Regions from separate parts of the Homo sapiens genome. Here regions 2, 3 and 4 are each reported to be linked to region 1. The links are microRNA targets in miRTarBase. Many come from high-throughput screens and were not tested one by one. Region 1 holds a microRNA gene; each other region holds the end of a gene's coding sequence.
What was found. Region 1 holds the annotated microRNA hsa-miR-6842-5p (UGGGGGUGGUCUCUAGCCAAGG, at 1,220-1,241, opposite strand). A microRNA usually pairs through its seed, bases 2 to 8, with sites in the 3' UTR of a target mRNA and lowers its output. Matches are read on the target gene's strand: a 7mer-m8 pairs with bases 2 to 8, a 7mer-A1 pairs with bases 2 to 7 and ends in A, and an 8mer does both.

Region 2: the mRNA of NLE1 is a reported target of hsa-miR-6842-5p. Seed matches in the 3' UTR shown: 7mer-A1 at 3,183-3,189, 7mer-A1 at 821-827 and 8mer at 458-465.
Region 3: miRTarBase lists RCE1 as a target of hsa-miR-6842-5p. Seed matches in the 3' UTR shown: 7mer-m8 at 3,228-3,234 and 7mer-m8 at 3,221-3,227.
Region 4: the mRNA of ZBTB46 is a reported target of hsa-miR-6842-5p. Seed matches in the 3' UTR shown: 7mer-m8 at 3,319-3,325 and 7mer-m8 at 2,174-2,180.

The regions. Positions count from the first base shown.
Region 1 is chr8:27,430,616-27,434,615 of GRCh38, reverse strand. MIR6842 (microRNA 6842) reads right to left here and starts at 1,246; the gene lies at 1,182-1,246. PTK2B (protein tyrosine kinase 2 beta) reads right to left here. Exons shown (of 31, transcript NM_173176.3): 8 at 3,600-3,740; 9 at 3,144-3,218; 10 at 2,255-2,356; 11 at 1,064-1,181; 12 at 484-523; 13 at 57-103. RefSeq lists an enhancer at 3,565-4,000.
Region 2 is chr17:35,129,227-35,133,435 of GRCh38, forward strand. NLE1 (notchless homolog 1) reads right to left here. Exons shown (of 13, transcript NM_018096.5): 11 at 4,113-4,209; 12 at 3,945-4,015; 13 at 1-3,223. The coding sequence ends at 3,211. FNDC8 (fibronectin type III domain containing 8) reads left to right here. Exons shown (of 4, transcript NM_017559.4): 3 at 196-432; 4 at 1,056-1,506. The coding sequence ends at 1,208. Among named protein-coding and RNA genes, the nearest start is that of FNDC8, 9.7 kb to the left of the region's middle.
Region 3 is chr11:66,845,461-66,849,669 of GRCh38, reverse strand. It overlaps RCE1 (Ras converting CAAX endopeptidase 1), which reads right to left. Exons shown (of 8, transcript NM_005133.3): 7 at 4,108-4,170; 8 at 3,118-3,810. The coding sequence ends at 3,575. PC (pyruvate carboxylase) reads left to right here. Exons shown (of 23, transcript NM_001040716.2): 21 at 1-59; 22 at 300-440; 23 at 523-1,250. The coding sequence ends at 771. Among named protein-coding and RNA genes, the nearest start is that of RCE1, 4.1 kb to the right of the region's middle.
Region 4 is chr20:63,743,476-63,747,684 of GRCh38, forward strand. It overlaps ZBTB46 (zinc finger and BTB domain containing 46), which reads right to left. Exons shown (of 5, transcript NM_001369741.1): 5 at 195-3,826. The coding sequence ends at 3,455. SLC2A4RG (SLC2A4 regulator) reads left to right here. Exons shown (of 8, transcript NM_020062.4): 8 at 1-575. It overlaps ZBTB46-AS2 (ZBTB46 antisense RNA 2), which reads left to right and starts at 350. Exons shown (of 3, transcript NR_186425.1): 1 at 350-1,253; 2 at 2,053-2,200; 3 at 2,348-2,476.

The DNA of each region.
Region 1 (4,000 bases):
GGAGCAAGCAGACGGGAGGCAACTGGAGCAGGTGGAGGATGCAGCGGGCAGCTCACCTATGCTGCAGCTCTCTGAGAGGTGGGACCGCCGGGCCTCCAGGTTTCTGTAGGAGGTGAGAGAGCAGAAGCCAGGTGAGCTCAGAGGCCGGTAATGTTCCCCTGGGCAGCCTCGGCCCGCCCTCTCCTCCTGCCCCCTGTGGAGAAGTAGTCTGTCCAAATTAGCAATGACCTGGGAGCACAGCCCAGGCTGCTGGGGGCTGGAGTTGGGGGACAGCAGCAACCCCCCAGGATAACACCAGGTGGCATGAAGGCATAGGAATATTCCTGCAGGTATTTATTGGGAGGGAAAGATCATCTTTTTTCAGGGTTCTCCTGGGCCTGAAAGCCAGAAACTATGGAGGTGGGGACTCCCAGTTTATTCTTATTCCTCTCAGCAGCACAGGCTGAGCTCAGGGCCCTGTCCTCTGCACCCCATTGTACTCACAGCATGGGGATCTGGGGCAGGCTGTTCCGCTTCTCACCATCTAGGAAGAGAGGAGGAAGGAGGAGGTTGGAGCTGGGGACACAGGGACCTGGATGGGTGACTGACCTCCTCACTATTCCTACAAGGGACTCTCCTCCCATCCCAGCCCCTAATTCCATTCTCTCCTAGCCTGGGAGCTAGTGAGGCCTTGGGCCAGAAGTGGAATCCTCCTTGGAGGCTGCCTCAGGCCAGATTTCACGTGCTCCAGCTGTGACCCCTGCTTCCTGAATCTGACCCAAGATGGAGACACACACAGGCGGGACCAGCCTTCTACTAGCAATGGCTTTGAGCTTGCTGGGGCTAAAACGCCTCTCCTCCAGAAGCTGCCTCTATGTGGACCTTGATTAGCAGGGCTGTGGGTAGGTGGACCGGCCAGGGCTTAAAGCCTAAGATGGGCCCACTGGAAGCTTCCCGCTGGGCTGTGGGGGAAGAATCCTCATTCACTTATCCATCAGTGGCTTAGCTTCTGCCACTCCGCCTCTGGGGACTCGGGTGTGCTGCCACCCGTGGTCCAGCCACTTTACCTTTAAATGGAACCCACCTTTCCTAGGATGGATGATGAGAGAGCCTTGGTGCTCACCCTGCAGCCGGCAGTAGCCGTCTATGAGGTCAGCCATGTTCTCAGCCTCTGCTAGGGATGAGGTTTTGATGGACAAGGCCTGCGGAGCAGAGACCAGCCAAGGGTGAGACCCCAGAGCCTTGGCTAGAGACCACCCCCAGGGCTGGAGAAGAGATGGCAGGACCCCTGCCACAACCCTTGCCTGGATGCCAATGCTGTCTGCACCTCTCCTGGGGCCCTGCCCTGGAGTCCAGACTGCACTCTGTCACCCCTTTCACCTGTACGCCCATGCTCTCCAAAGGCCAGTCCCAGGCCTCACTTATTTTGGCCTCTGAGCACATAGCACGATGCCTGGTACCTAGTAGGTGCTCAATAAATAGAAGCAGAAACTGAGAAAATGGAAGAGGGGGCTGGGCACAGTGGCTCATGCCTATAATCCCAGCACTTTAGGAGGCCGAGGCAGGCAGATCACCTGAGGTCAGGAGTTTGAGACCAGCCTGGCCAACATGGTGAAACCCTGTGTCTACTAAAAGTACAAAAATTAGTTGGGCCTTGTGGCATGCACCTGTAGTCCCAGCTACTCAGGAGGCTGAGGCAGGAGAATCTCTTGAACTGTGGAGGTGGAGGTTACAGTGAGCTGAGATTGCACCACTGCACTGTAGCCTGGGTGACAGAGTGAGACTTTGTCTAAAAAAAAGAAAGAAAGAAAGAAAGAGGAAGGGGAGGCAATGGGGCAGGGCACAGATGGGTGAAAGGAGAGAGAGATGCAGCCTGAGGTCTCTCTGGGTGTTTTACTGTAAAAAACAAACAAACAAACAAACAAAAAAACCCATGTTTTTGAGGTCTTGATGTCCGCATCCTTGTTCTCTTGGTATAACTTAGGCCTGTGATTTATACCTGATTTCTGGTCACCTTGAACATTCCACTACCTGAAAACCTTCCCAATTTCTTCTCCTGACATTAAAAAAATTGTTTCCCGAATTTTCCTACAATTTATCATCATCCTGGTACCTTTTGTCTAAGAACTTGGTGCAGTTTTCTTAACACGATCCCCAAAGCCAGGAAGCTCCTGGCTTCCTGTGTGTCACAGACTTTTGGTCTGAGCAAGAGCTCCCAATCTGCCATTATACCCCCTGCAGAGCTGCCAGGTGCCCAGTGCCCAGAGACACTCACCTGGGGGGCACCTTCAATGCCCAGCTGAAGTACTGCCTGGCCCTCCTCCAGCGGGAGGCACCTGATGGACCTGATCTGCTTGAACTCGGCCAGGCAGGTGGGCTGTGGGAAAAGAAGGGGGAGCTTCAGACCATCCCACTACCAGGACTAGGCCATGCAGATTGGTCAGTATGGGGGAGCCGGGGTGAGGAGGAACTGGGAGTTTCTCTGGGAGATGAAGAGAGAATCAAACACTATTAAGGCTAGAAGGATCCTCTAGTTCAGGGGTGTCCAATCTTTTGGCTTCCCTGGGCCACATTGGAAGAAGAATTGTCTTGGACCACACATAAAATACACTAACACTACTTGATGAAGGTAAAAAAAAAAATCGCACAAAAAAATCTCAACATGTTTTAAGAAAGTTTACGAATTTGTGGTGGGCTGCATTCAAAGCCATCCTGGGACCACAGGCTTGATCTAGACCAAGCCCCTCCCTATGCCAAGGAGAAAATGAGGTCTAGAGAAAGCCAGGACTTGCTCAACATCATGTGCCAAGCTGGCAGTGGAGCCAGGACTGGACCCAGGTCCCCTGACTTCCAAGGGAATCATGCCTTATATTGTCACTGAAAGAGCAACACTGCTGAGCTCTGCGAGTAATCATTGAGGCCTTGTCTCCCCCTCCCACCACCTCTGTGCAGATGACAGTCACAGGGATGTAAAGGGCCATCTGTCCCATGCTGCCATCTCTAAATGCTCTCCACTGCTGCTCACGCCAGGGCATGGCCTTAGAAGAACTCTGCTTTCAGCAACAGGGGCAAGAAGAACTGAAGGGGCAGACAGGGCGGGAGGCAGCAGAGAGGGGACGACCTCCCCGCCTGGGGCTGGGTGGGGCTGCCCCGGGTCTCTCTACCTTTGCGTCCTGACTAGTCAGCTGGCGGATCCCTTTAGGGCCAATGACCAGGTCCACAGTAATGTTCCATCCTTGCTGGAATAAAAGGAGAGTGGACTGTTGTTCCAGAGCTGTCCTCCCCATTCTTCAGAAACTTGAAGAAAAGCTCCCTAAGCTAGACACAAGCCACTGTTTCCTGGGTCTCCAGCTCCTTCTCACCGAAACCCTGGCCATATGGATCTTCCCCTCCTGACACCTTGCCTGTCCTGCCCACCTCCCAGAGCTGGAGGCCAACATTTCAGTGCCTGCTTCAGGCAAGGGGATGCTTTTGACTTCCACCGACGGCAGGTCAGCGAGGTCCTGCTGCCTGAGTGAGAATCTGCAGCGATTGCAGCCTCTCCCTGCCCCCTCCTGGCCCCCTTTTCCGAGAGGCCTGGAATCCAGGTCAGGGAGAGGATCAAGAGAGCCCGCCATTACAATGAGTTCACAGCGGTAGGTCTCCTGGTCGATGTTGGCGAAGCCGGCGAGAGTGTTGAAGAACTTCATGACGCACTCCTCCTCCCTGAGCGAGGCGTACTGCTGGAAGGTCTGCTGGATCATCTTCCGGAACTGTTTGGGCTGGGGGAGGGGATGGGCCGTGTGAGCAATGCCTGCTCCTCCCAGGTCTCACTCCTTCCCTTAGGGTCTCGCTGAGAGACTGCCCACTGCTCGAAAATGATCCCCAGGGCCTTTGCCCCAAAAGCAGCTGTGATCTATGACCTAAAACCCATACCCATTGTCTCAAGGGAGACTCCCCGTAACCCTACGAAGGAGGTTGAGGGGGCGAGGGGTAGCTTCCCAGTACTGGGGCCGCAGAGCTGATACGGCCTCGATACGGA
Region 2 (4,209 bases), not on the chromosome of region 1:
CAGGAGAGTAGTACATGCTTCGGGGCAGGGGTTCCACACTCAGTGCTGCAGTACCTTGCACCTTCCATCTGACCTGCCTGGGCCCCAGCAGGAGCAGGGGATGGGCATGGGACGTCCTGACCCCAGTTGGGAGGGTGAAGGGACAGGAAGGACAGGACATATCTGAGGAAGCCTCGGGGCTCTCTCTTCCCCTAGATTTCCTGGACCTACGCCTTGGGCAAGCAGCCGGTCAGTTTCTACCAGCTCCTGTTACAGGAGGTGGCCAAGACACAGGAGAATGAGTTGCCCGAGGCAAAGAATCGTCCATGGATCTTCAACAAGATTTTGGGCACTACTGTCAAGCTGATGGAGCTAAAGCCTAACACGTGTTACTGCCTCAGTGTCCGTGCAGCCAACACAGCTGGGGTGGGGAAGTGGTGCAAGCCCTACAAAGTGAGCCCTGGGAAAAGAGGGGCCTTGGGGGTGGAGAGAAGTCCAAAGCCAGGGAACCAGGGCTTTGGAGGTTGGGAACACCCCTATGCCCACATGACTCATCTGGCTAGCTTTCCTTCTGCCTGGGTCAAGAAGCATCAATTCCAGAATGCATGCTTCTGGGAGGTTTAAGGATTAAGCCACTCTGGGGCCCACTAGGAATGCAAACGAATGTATTTTTCAACATCACTATAATGTTCCCCTTCCAAAGCCATTGGTTTTTAGACTCTGCAATTCAGTGCCCATGATTGTGAGTAGGCTGGGAAGTCAAGGGCATTGAAAGAAATAGGGAAGACAAGAGGCTAAAGGGGGACGAAGAAGGGAACAGCCTGGGTATGGGGTAGGGGTATGGGGGTATAGAGGCCTGAGTACAGACAGCCCTTTGGTTGGAAATATCCCATAATGAGGAGGTACAGGCTTGAGTCATGCATCTTTGCACCTGTTTCCTGCGTCAATGGCTAGGTTGGATAAGGCTGTTTAAGGTCTGAGTCAGCAGACAGAAAAAAAAGGGGTGATAGAGACAGAGAGAGAGCCAGGTTCAGATCTGGGAAGGAACTCTGAAGGGTTTTCTTGTTTCACTTCAGTTTGCAACCCTGGCCACTGACTTCAGCAGCTTTCCTGAGAACTACCCCATCCAGATCACCGTGCGGCGCAAGGAACCCCGGCAAAAGATCGTGTCCATCGGGCCGGAGGAGATGCGGAGGCTGGAGGATCTGGAATACCTATTTCCCTGTTAAGGGGGAGGGCCCCAGGACACCCCTCACCTACTTTCAGCTTCAACCCCAGGCCCTCAGAAACCAGAGCCATGAGACCTACCATACCACCAGCACCCTGCGGGCCCGGGGTCTGGCAGAGTGGTATGGGCACCCCACCCCTGGGCTGGGGCCAAGGCTACATAGGGGCCCCATTCACCTGGAGGCATCTCAGGCCAGGCCATGCCAGGCTCAGCCACTGCCCACAGCTGCTAGACTCCCTCCTCCTCCAAATCTGGGCTGGGTCTAGGTCCCTCATTAAAGAACTGCAGGTCATCCAGCACCCTAAAGTCTGCTTTATGCTGCAGACAGCCTCAGATGGGCTGGCTGGCACCCACCTCCTAGCTTCCACCAGGACAGAGTCTACATGGGTGGGGAGATAGAAAACAGGCAGCTAGGCAATAGGATGCTGCCATCACCCCTTCCCCAGTGGGGCGGGGTAGGGGAACAGGGAGACTGGTGCTCTAAGACTAAAAGGCTCTTACACCAGAAAAATACAGAAATAGCTGTCATGGACAGACGTGGTGGCCCATGAACTGTCAAACTAGCTTGAGCTCTGGACGGAGGGATGTGGTACAAAGTGCACAATAAGCTTTGGGGCAGGGCCTGGTTTAATCCCAGCTTTCTCTTACTAGATGTGAGGGCATGGGCTAATCATTTCTTATGTTGTTTCCTCATCAAAAGTTTTGGAGCTTGAGAACCTTCCAGGCCTGGTGCAGTCTGAGAGCACAGCAGACAAACAGCTGGCACCAAGGAGCTCAGTGGCTGATAGTTTTGTTCGCTTCTTATGTAGCCTCACTGCAGATATGTGCAAGGTGGAGGCCAAGCACCACAGCTAGGTGACGCGCAAAACCCAAAAGCACAGACAAGGGTGGAGGAGGGTAAGAAGGAGCAAGATGCTAGTTCTGAGCAGTTTATACAAGGATGGTTTGGAAATCCAATCTGAGTAGTTCAGACCATGACCCTGCTTAGCATGGGATGCAGGAGAAAGCAGAGGCAGGGTACATTCAGGGCAAGATCTCGGCCTGGGGTCTGAGTCCTGATGGGAATTCCTTTCACTGCTTGAAAGTTCTCGTGGCAAAGAACTTCCTCTGTATCAACAATACCCACTTCTGCTCAGAGCTCATACTGCTGCCTCCCCATCTGAGGGAATCCTCTGGAAGAGCCATCACCTTCCCCGCTCTATCCCATGGGCCCAGGGCAGTGCTTGGTGCCTGGCAGGGCCTCAAGCAGTGTGCTATGCGAAGGCAGAGGCATCCCCTGGAGCAGGGCTGACCAGCAGAACTCTCTTGATGATGAAAACCTTTCTGTGTGCTGTCCAATACTGGAGGCCTTACCCAGTGCGATGGAGGAACTGCACTTCTATTTCATGCCAGCAGTCACATGTGGCCGGTGCCTACTGCAGTGGACAACAATACAGCCCTAGATTCTCCTTGGCCACTATCACAACTGGCCTCTCTCTTACCAACACGGGGGAAGAGAGGGAAGGCAAGTGCCTGGTCAGTGTGGTTTTGGCGTAGTCCAGTGCAAGGGCGGGGGCTGGACAATCTCATTTAGCACAGTCCTTGATTGAGTCATGGGGATTCTAGGACAAGGAATTAGAACCCAACACACAAAACTTAAGTTACTTATTTGGTCATAGAACCTGGGATCTGACCCTGTACAGAGCTGACACTAGGGGCCCACTCATAGAGCCTGGCTGCCCACCACCCCTGTCTGTACCAGCAAGGTACAGAGTAGCAGACACGGGCCAAGTTCAGTGACAACTTCCTGTGACCTTCGATTTCTGGCTCTGGGGTGTGCCACAGGCGGGGATCTGTGGGAAAACCCCATTCCGGTCTATCGAGGACAGCAGGCCACACGCATTCTCAGGTCCCCACTGGTGGGGAGGGTGTGTGCACTGCCATCTCAGCCTTTGTTCTCTGGCAGGGAAGGCAGCTGGCAGAGGCCGAGTCGAGGTGGGGGTCAGAGAGAACTTCGGGCCGTCTCATCTCCTCCATCTGTGGAGAAGGGAAGGGTGTCAGGATGGGGATTCCACCTTAGGAAAGGGAGGCCGTCATATAATCCCAGTGTCAACAGACGGACGGCCTGTGGTCCACCCTCAGAGTCACCAAGAGCCAGGTGACCGTCCCTGCTCTGCCCACCCAAACTCAGGCTGCCCACTCACTGCCTGCTGCCACCAGGACCTCCACCCAGGGCCTGGCCCTCGGGATGCCCACCAGCAAACAGTCACAATCCCTTATAAGCACACAACACTTTGTCTTCCAGAGTGTTGACCCTCCTATTTTTGATCCTGTCTGTGAAGGTTTGATAATTCCCAAGAGACTGATTAACCAAGTTCTCTGTGATTACTCCATGGCAGAACCAGGATTTGAACTCAGGTCTTGCGACTCTGAAGTCTAGTGACAGAAAGACCTGGATGCGCCCTCTACAAGGTGTCCTGTGGCCCCTGTTGTTCCGGTGGCCCTCCCACTTGCCCACTGACAGAAAGACCTGGACGCGCCCTCTACGAGGTGTCCTGTGGCCTCTGTTGTTCCGGTGGCCCTCCCACTTGTGGCCCTCCCACTTGCCCACTGAGAATCTGGCTCCACACGCCTCCTCAAGACAGTCTGAGCACCTGGACGGCCCTGCGGAATTCTATGCTGTAAGGGAAAGTGTGCACAGAAGGACCTTAGGGGTAGGAGGGCTGTGTATGCCAACCACCACTTCCCCCACACTCACATCCGGAGGCATTTGTCCTTCCCACCACTTGCCACTCTCTGGCCATCTGGACTCCAGTCAACAGCATATACCTAAAGGGAGGCAGAGGAAGGCAGGTGGGGTGGTGAGAGGGAGACAGCCAGCCAGGCTCCAATCCCAGTCCCTCCTTTGCCTGAGGGTTGGCCCTACCTCATCCGCGTGGCCGGGCAGGTCCATGGCCAGCTTCTGGGCCTTCACATCCCACACCTTCAGTGTGCTGTCACTGCTGCCGCTGACCAGGAGCCGA
Region 3 (4,209 bases), not on the chromosome of region 1:
TGGATAGCCTGAATACTCGCCTCTTCCTGCAGGGACCCAAGATCGCAGAGGAGTTTGAGGTCAGTGGCTCTGGCGCTTCTCCACACTCCACCCTGGCCCCCTGCCCCAGAGCTCTGGAGTTTAGCTTGGCTGTCACCCAGCCTCGCAAGCTTTGGGAGCAGAAAGGACCCTTGAGACCGGGAGCTAGGCCTTTAGGAACGAGGAGCCAAGGCCCAGTGTGGGGACTTCCTATGGCCAGGGCCGGGGGACTGCTCTCCCACCTTGGCGTCCAGCTCTGAGTCTGCACACCCTCCCTGCAGGTGGAGCTGGAGCGGGGCAAGACGCTGCACATCAAAGCCCTGGCCGTGAGCGACCTGAACCGGGCCGGCCAGAGGCAGGTCTTCTTTGAGCTCAATGGGCAGCTGCGGTCCATCTTGGTCAAGGACACCCAGGCCATGAAGGTATTGTCTCCCCCAGGGCCAGCCAGGCGGTGGGGCTTGGCTGGGCCCAGGATGTCATGTCCCCTCTGCCCTGTGTCTTCAGGAGATGCACTTCCACCCCAAGGCCCTAAAGGACGTGAAGGGCCAGATCGGGGCGCCCATGCCTGGGAAGGTGATAGACATCAAAGTGGTGGCAGGGGCCAAGGTGGCCAAGGGCCAGCCCCTGTGTGTGCTCAGTGCCATGAAGATGGAGACTGTGGTGACCTCACCCATGGAGGGTACTGTCCGCAAGGTTCATGTGACCAAGGACATGACACTGGAAGGTGACGACCTCATCCTGGAGATCGAGTGATCTTGCCCCAGACCGGCAGCCTGGCCATCCCCAAGCCTTCAACAGAAGCTGTGCTGCCACGGCAGGCCCAGGCCAGCCAGTGCCCGAGGCCAGGAAGGCCGGGCCGTGGAGGTCCTGTCCACAGCTGGACAGGAGAGACACCGCCTGCGGTGGTTCATTCCTTTCAGCCATCGTCCTTTCCTCCGGCGGACAGCTGCTTACATGTTCATCTCTTGCCAAATAAGGGTCCCCTCCTCACTGGAGACTACAAGTGGTGGGTCAGGTGGTCCTAGGACCCAGGGGAGGTTTAGGGGTCCTATCTCCTGGGGGAAGGGGAGATCTAAGATGTCCCAGGTCCTGGGAAGTTTACTCAATAAAGCTGGCTTTCCCCTGCCCTCCATGCTGGATCCTGTGCAGCCCCCAGCCTGCACCACTCAGCAGTGGGGGGCTGCCTTTCAAGCTCCCCATGGGTGGGCAGGTCAGTTGTGTCGTTCTCCTCAGAGGGTAGTGAGAATGACCATCGTGGCCCTGTTTTAAGTCACTATTGGGTGCCTACTGTGTATACTCCCCAAACAGGACTAGTAGTACTGAACTTGCTTGAGGGGTGGGGCCTGTTCTAAGTATTTAACACCTATTAACACAGGGAATTAACCTTCATCCTCTTATGGACACAGAAATCAAGTCACAGGAAGATTAAATAATTTGTCCAGGACTTCACAAGTAGTAAGAGAGAGAGATGAAACCCAGGCCGTTGGCAGACTCGCCTCCCAACCCCGCTGCTTTATTTTCTAAAACCCAAGGCCAGCGTCCCACCTCAGTTAGCAGGTAAATGCAAGCAGGTACCACCTTGTGGGCAGTGGGTAAGACCCTCGGGAATGGTGATCCGGGAGTCTTGTGTGTGCTCTGGATGTGAGAATGTTGGTGGGAGGTGAGGGGGAGCACCGGGTCCAGGGTCTCAGGTTCTAACCCTGCCACTCCCCATGACCACCCCTCCAGACTCCTGCTCAGTTCCCTTTCCTGCAGTGGGGACAGTAACCCTGCCTGCACCACTGCCCTCCTGCCCACCTGCCCACAGGTAGGGAGAGGATGGTGAAGGGAGCAGGAGGCTGGGCAGTTCCTGAGATGGAGGGGTGGGTGTGGGGAGGCCGATGCAGGAAATCAGCCTCTGGATGGGAAGCACCCAGCAGGCCTCTGCCCAGTGCTCCCAGAGCCAGTCCAACCTCTGGGATGGGCAACTCACAGTGGGCTTGAGCCTCTTCCTTTCTGGACCGCCATGTCCTAGATGTACCCCAGGAGGCAGATGACTGCGATGCTGCCCCTTCCATCCGGGTGGATGTCGTTGTCATGGCCAGCCTGCAGGCATCGTGGGGGAGTGACCGCACATCCTTTTTCCCTCAGTGGCCAGCCTCAGAGAAGGGACCTTGGGACAACCTCCTTGATTGGGGAATGGGACCTAAAGGGCTTTCTTCCCTCCCCCGCCCCCCCTGCCCCCCACCCCGGAGATGGAGTCTCGCTCTGTCACCCAGGCTGGAGTACAGTAGTGTGATTTTGGCTCACTGGAATCTGTGCCTCCCAGGTTCAAGTGATTGTCCTGCCTTAGCCTCCTGCCACCACGCCCCGCCTATGCCCGGCTAATTTTTTGTATTTTTAGTAGAGACGGGTTTCACCATGTTGGTCAGGCTGGTCTCGGACTCCTGACCTCAAGTAATCCAGGGCTAATACTCTTTCAGGAATCTAATTTTAAAAGAGCACAGGCAGGGAAACGAGAGCCCTTCCAAAAATGATGGAGAGCAGGCAGAACACTTGCAGGTGCCGAGAAGGACCCTGGAGTCACTGTGTTGCTTGGCAAAGTCCCTGCTGCCCTCAGGGCTGCAGCCTGTGTTCTGGGTTCCTCTGGGGCAGAGGTCAGAGGTGGAGAGAACCAGAAAAGCCTCTACTTATGGTGACTCAGGGACCTATTTCCTCTTGTGAAAAACAAGACTGGCAGACTGTGGAGGTCCTGGCAGAGGCTTCAGGCCAGTCATCTTCCCCTCAGAGGAGATACGTCGGAGGCTCCATCGCTGAGGTCAGGGCCAGGGCCATGGTTCCCACTCCCTGACCCGTCAGCCAAGGCACAGGCCCCAGGATGAGCTGGGCTCACACCTGGTACCTGCAGTCTCAGAGCCAACCACACTAGGACTTTGGGGCATGGTTCAGGAAGGAGGAAGCCACAGGCTCCCAGCAACCAGAGCTCCCAGCCCATCCTGTACTCCAGGGAACTACCCGCCTGGATGCACCGCCCAGATGTCAGTGTTCAAGGTAGCTGGGACAGGTGGTGGGCACACTCCCAAGAGCTGCCTAGAGTCTTCACACAAGATCCCAAATAGACCGATTCCCAAAGGCCCAAGGCCATGTTACCCAAGTTAAATCTCTTTAATATCCCAATACAAAGTACTGATGCAAAAAGACAATGAGAAAACCCAGGAAGTTGGGGGGTGGGGGGTGGGGAGAGGTTTTATAAATAAAAAACCCCGAGCAGCTTTTCAGAGGCAGAGGAGCTAAGAGAAGCAGCAGTCCAAAGTGAGGAAGGGAGTGTGTGGCTCCTGGGACCTGCCCCTTGTCCCCTCACTCACAGCTGCTCGTAAACACCCCTTTCAAAAGGGGCTGCACCCTTTGGATATCTGCTTCTTTCTCTTGGTCCCTGGGACGCAACTAGCTCTGGCTTCAATCCCCTACAAAAATTCCTGAGATCTCGGGGACCCCAGCCAGCCCTTCCCCTGCAGTACCCCTTGGTGGGGAGGGCTGGGGAGCCGGTGAGAGTTCATAGCGTATCCAGGAGCATAGGTCAGGAGCACAGGGGAGCCTCTGAGTCCCCTGCCCGCTCCAAAAGCACACAAAGGGGAAGGCTGCCGTAGAGCTTGGGGTCCGTGAGGGGCTGGAGCAGAAGCAGGAAGAGTCCCACACCCAGGGCATAGCCTGCCAGCAGGGGCCGCCTCTGTGGGTGCTCCAAGGCCGCGCAAACAGCTGGGAAACCCATGTAATTGCAGAAGGAATGGCAGAGAACCGGCCCAATCAGGTGTCCTGGGGAAAAGAGACAGCAGCTCAGGGAGCAGCCCTACCACCTCCTCTGGCCCTTCCAGGGCTAGTGACCCTCATCCCCTGAAACAGGAGATCAAGATCCCACTACCCCAGCCATCCACCCACACACCACGGCCTCTGCTCCTTTCCACCTCTCAGACCTCACCAGGCTGAGGGCTCTGGCTCAGCCTGTCTCAAGGACTGGAGTAGAAGAACTTTTGTTCCTAGAACAAACAGTATTCCCATTCTCCCACCCGCTCCTGTGGGCCCCCAGGGACCCATGAGGGACTGAGGACCAACCTGTGCGGATGAAGAGGAAAGCAGTGTAGGCACCGAAGACAGCTGTGTAGGAGAACTGGAACGCTGGAGACGGGGAGGCCACGAGTGACCACACCTGCACGC
Region 4 (4,209 bases), not on the chromosome of region 1:
AGAAATTAAAGATTTGAGGTTTTTCCAGAAGCTTTGTCTGCCTCTCGGGAGGAAGGCCGTGGGGCTGGGACCCTGTGGTGGGCAAGTGGGTGGAGTCTGGCAGCTGCCCACAGAGGGCCGAGGGTCACCCGTCGGCCGCCGCCACCCCAGGCGAGGCCGGAGGAAGGATCATCTGAGACGCAGGAGGCATCTGCTGGAGCAGCAATTTCCCAATTTATTGAAAGTGATCGCTTTGCAAGGATGTCTAAGCTAATCCCGTCACAGAAAGGAAACGCACAGGCGCCTAGGCAGAAACTTGGAGACTCACCGCAGAGGCCACGTGAACCCACGGCCACAGAGAGGCAGGACGGCAGAGCCATGATTTCCCACCGAGCGATTACGAGAACCTCTTCCCCCAATAGTAGACACATCTCCAATACAAACACAGGTTTATAATAAGTAATAGGAAGTCAATATAATATAGATTATCCCCAGAAAAAAATCAACAATCTTCAAACACTGCCCTTTTTTTGTGTGTTTTGTTTTTGTTGACAGGTTGAAAGCATGTTGAAAAAAATAAATATTTAAGAAAAGCACACACAGCACCCTCACTACAAGTAGTTCTAAAAGGGCTGCATACAAAACACAATATAAGATCTAAAAAAAACCACCACCATTAAGTATGGCTTTCTTAAGAGTCGCACATGTCACAGAATGAGCTAAAATAAGATTACTTCTTTTATAATATTGCAAAAAGTTCCAGTTTTTGCATTTTCTCAGTTTTTTAAAGAGGAAGATGTGCAAAGTTGGAAGCAGTAAGCTGCGTCTTCTGAGTCAGTTCCCTACGTAGCCCTGGCAGTGTCCTGTGTCCCAAAGCTCAGAGAGCCCCAGTGTACAACCTGGTCAGGATCCAGAGCTTGACAGAAAAATCGTGGTGTCCCTGCCCCCTCCCCGCCCCCAAATAACACCATCCCCAATGGACTGTATTTCCCACTTTGGTGTTGTAAACACCAAAATACAAACAGACACAAACAAAAATACAAAATGTGAAATGTAATCTACACATTTTTCCTCTTCATAAAAAAATATTTATTAGTTTGAACATCGATTTAAAAAAAAATCAGTCACATAAAAAAAACCCTTCATGACATGTCTTTTCCCTCCACGCCTCCTGAGATGGACGTGCTCACCTGGGCCTCGGAAATCCCACACTCTTCAGTCGGCAAACTGCGAACAAGAACAGGAAATCTGCCACGCAGCAAACACTTGGGGAGGTCAGTGGGACACTGTTGGTTTTAGGGAAGAAAATGCCCCTGTAGCTCCGGCGGGGAACCCCAAAACGGTCAGCAAAGGCAGGCCACACGGAGTGAGCCGGCCAGATGGAGCAGGACATCCTGAGTGTGGAGGGGGAGGCGGGCCTGGGTCCTGGGCAGGGTGGCCTGAGAGCAGGGACTGGTACAAAACCCAGAGACATTGGTGGGTAGCAAAGGTCTGGTTTCCAAATGCATTTTGTAAGAAAGTCAGTCTGTTTAGAAAAAGGGTTTAAAAATCAGGGGAAAGGTACAAAGTTCTGAGAATTCTCAAAGAGGCCGGGGTGGGGCTGGCCTGGGGTGAGGGCTGGAGGGCTCCGCTGCAGCTCCCTGGTAGCCATGCTCTCCCCCTGGGGGACTCGTGCCAGAGCCACCCACCTTGCTCGGTAAGAGTGGGCAGGGCTCACCGCTGAGGGGCCAGCGCTTGGCCCGGCTCCTATCCCCACACTCCGTGTGCAGAAAAATCTTGGCCTCTTTCTCCAGCTTTGAGGAGCCCACAGCCTCCGAGCTGAGGGGTGTGTGTGATGACAGCTCCAGCCAGGGCACCCTGTCATTGGTAGAACCGGGGGCCAATGTCAAAAAACAAAAGCCGTGACTCCTGCGCTGTACCTGGAGTCCTCCATGTACTCCTCCACAGGACCCCCGGCCAGCCCCAGCCCTCCCCGAGCAGCAGCGGTCAGGGAAGCTGGTGCTCTACCTGACAATGTGGGGAAAAGCCTGGTATACAGGCTAGAAAAAGAGAGTAAAAACTCTTTCCACGCAGCCCTGAAGCTCAGCACTCCGGGGGGTCTTCACACGGGCAGGTCCTGGAGGGAAGGAGGAGGCCACCGCGCCCACCTCCCATCTGAAGGCACAGCACCGCAGTGGTGGCCTGTGCCAGAGGAGGGGGTGAAGGATGGAATGTCCTCATGGTGAGTGCTGTCAGAGGCAGGCCTGAACGAGAAGACAGGCCGTGGCAACGGTCCCGAGGCTGTGAGTCTAGGCAGCCTGCCTCCGGGACCCCCAAAGCCAGGCGGTGCACCACAGCACACACCGTGGGACCTTTGCTTTTCACTCAGGAAAAGAAAGAACATGTGAGTGCTTCTGAAAACACAGCAAGAGGACTTGAGCACAAGCTAAAGGAAAAACAACCCTATATAGTTTCTTCGAGTGAGAAAAATAATGCCAAACAAAATAATTTTATGTAACTACCTCGATATGTCTCTGACTACTTAAAAATTTGGTTACCCACGCGGGGAGGTGTAAGCAGCACACTGCAGTTAGGAACACCGCCTCCAGTGTTAGCAGCAAAGGCAGGAGCCCAGCTCCAGCCCGTCCAGGAGGGGTCAGCAGGAGCGGCCGGGCTGGGCCATGGGCAGAACAGGACGGGCAGAGCCCGGGGTGGACGTGGCAGCCCAAGGCTCTCCGAGGAAGTGCACACGACTGAGCCGAGGCCCTTGCAGAGGGAACCTGGTGTGGCCTGAAGTGGTGGGGGGCACAGGGCTGAGGGTCCCCTCCTGGAAGGAGCCCCCAGGGCTGTGTCCACCTAAGATAGCACCTGGAGCCCTCGGCCTCCAGCAGGGTCTGCAGCTGTGTTGTGTGTTAAGCACCAAAGCCCAGAGGTAAGACGGTGGCAGGGCTCTCTGTGCACCTGGATTCTACAGGCTGCCATGGGCCACGGCTGCACCACGGGCCACGGCTGCAGCCACAGGCAGTGACCTGGCTGCTAGGGGAGGGGAGGGCGGGCTCCAGCCGGGCTGACCGGGTGTCTGTAAAACTCTGCACCTGCTCAGGCCAGGGGCCTCTGGGCCGAACACACCACCCCGCCCAGTGCCCACTGGACCCGGCCACAGGCCCATCACGTGTCCAAGCCAGGCTGGCCATCACAGGGGCCACTCACACACCCGCACCACCTGCTGGGGACTTAGGACCGTGCTCTCCCTTCACTCAAACCCACCCTGTGCCCTCCCCCAACTCACTTCATGTCTGGTCCCAGAGCACCCCTCTTGCTGGGGTCGCACCTGCTTAGCCCGCAGGGCTGGTTTCCGTGGGGGGTGGGTTCAGGGGGAAGCAGAGGAGGGGCCGCGAGAGGGGTGAGCGTGGCCCTGGCCCCGCAGTGGAGACCCACCGGACACACACACGGGTGGACGGAGCGAGGCAGCCACCGACCCTGCCGGCGGGCGGGCCTAGGAGAGCCAGGCGAAGTCCTTGTCAGGGCCTCCTGGGGGGCTGCGCGGCCGCGGCGAGTCTTCCTCATCCTTGTCGTCCGCCAACAGCGCATCCTCAGGGGCCAGGCCCTCGTCGTCCTCGCCCAGCTCCTCCGCCTCCCCTCGTGGGTCCTCAGGGTCCTCCAGATAGGGCCCGTCGCCTGGGAACAGCGCCTCTGGAGAGCCCTCGCCGCCTCCGCCGCCATGGTCCAGGGGCCCGGCCATGCCGCGGCCAGCACAGTCGGTGCACACACCGTGGCGCCTGGAGCCATGCCTGATGCCCACGCTGGCGGCGGACATGAAGACGCGGCTGCACACCTTGCACACATACTTCTTGTCCTTGCTGTGGACCTGCAGAGGCAGGGCAGGGGGTGAGCAGGGCCTGGTGGGTTGGGGGGCGGGGCAGGGGGTGAGCAGGGCCTGGTGGAGGTGGGGGGGGCAGGTGGTGAGCAGGGCCAGGTGGAGGTTGGAAGAGGGGGCAGGGGGTGAGCAGGGCCTGGTGGAGGTGGGGGGGGCGGGGCAGGGGGTGAGCAGGGCCCGGTGGAGGTTGGGAGGGGGGCCAGGGGGTGAGCAGGGCCTGGTGGGTGGGGGGGGTGCGGGGGTGAGCAGGGCCCGGTTGGGGTTGGGGGGGCACAGCCTCCCGGGCCCTCCGAGTGTCTGCACAGGCAGAGACTCCTGGTGGGGGAGGTGCGCAGACAGGAGTGCTCAGACCTTGAGCCCCAGCTCCTATCAGA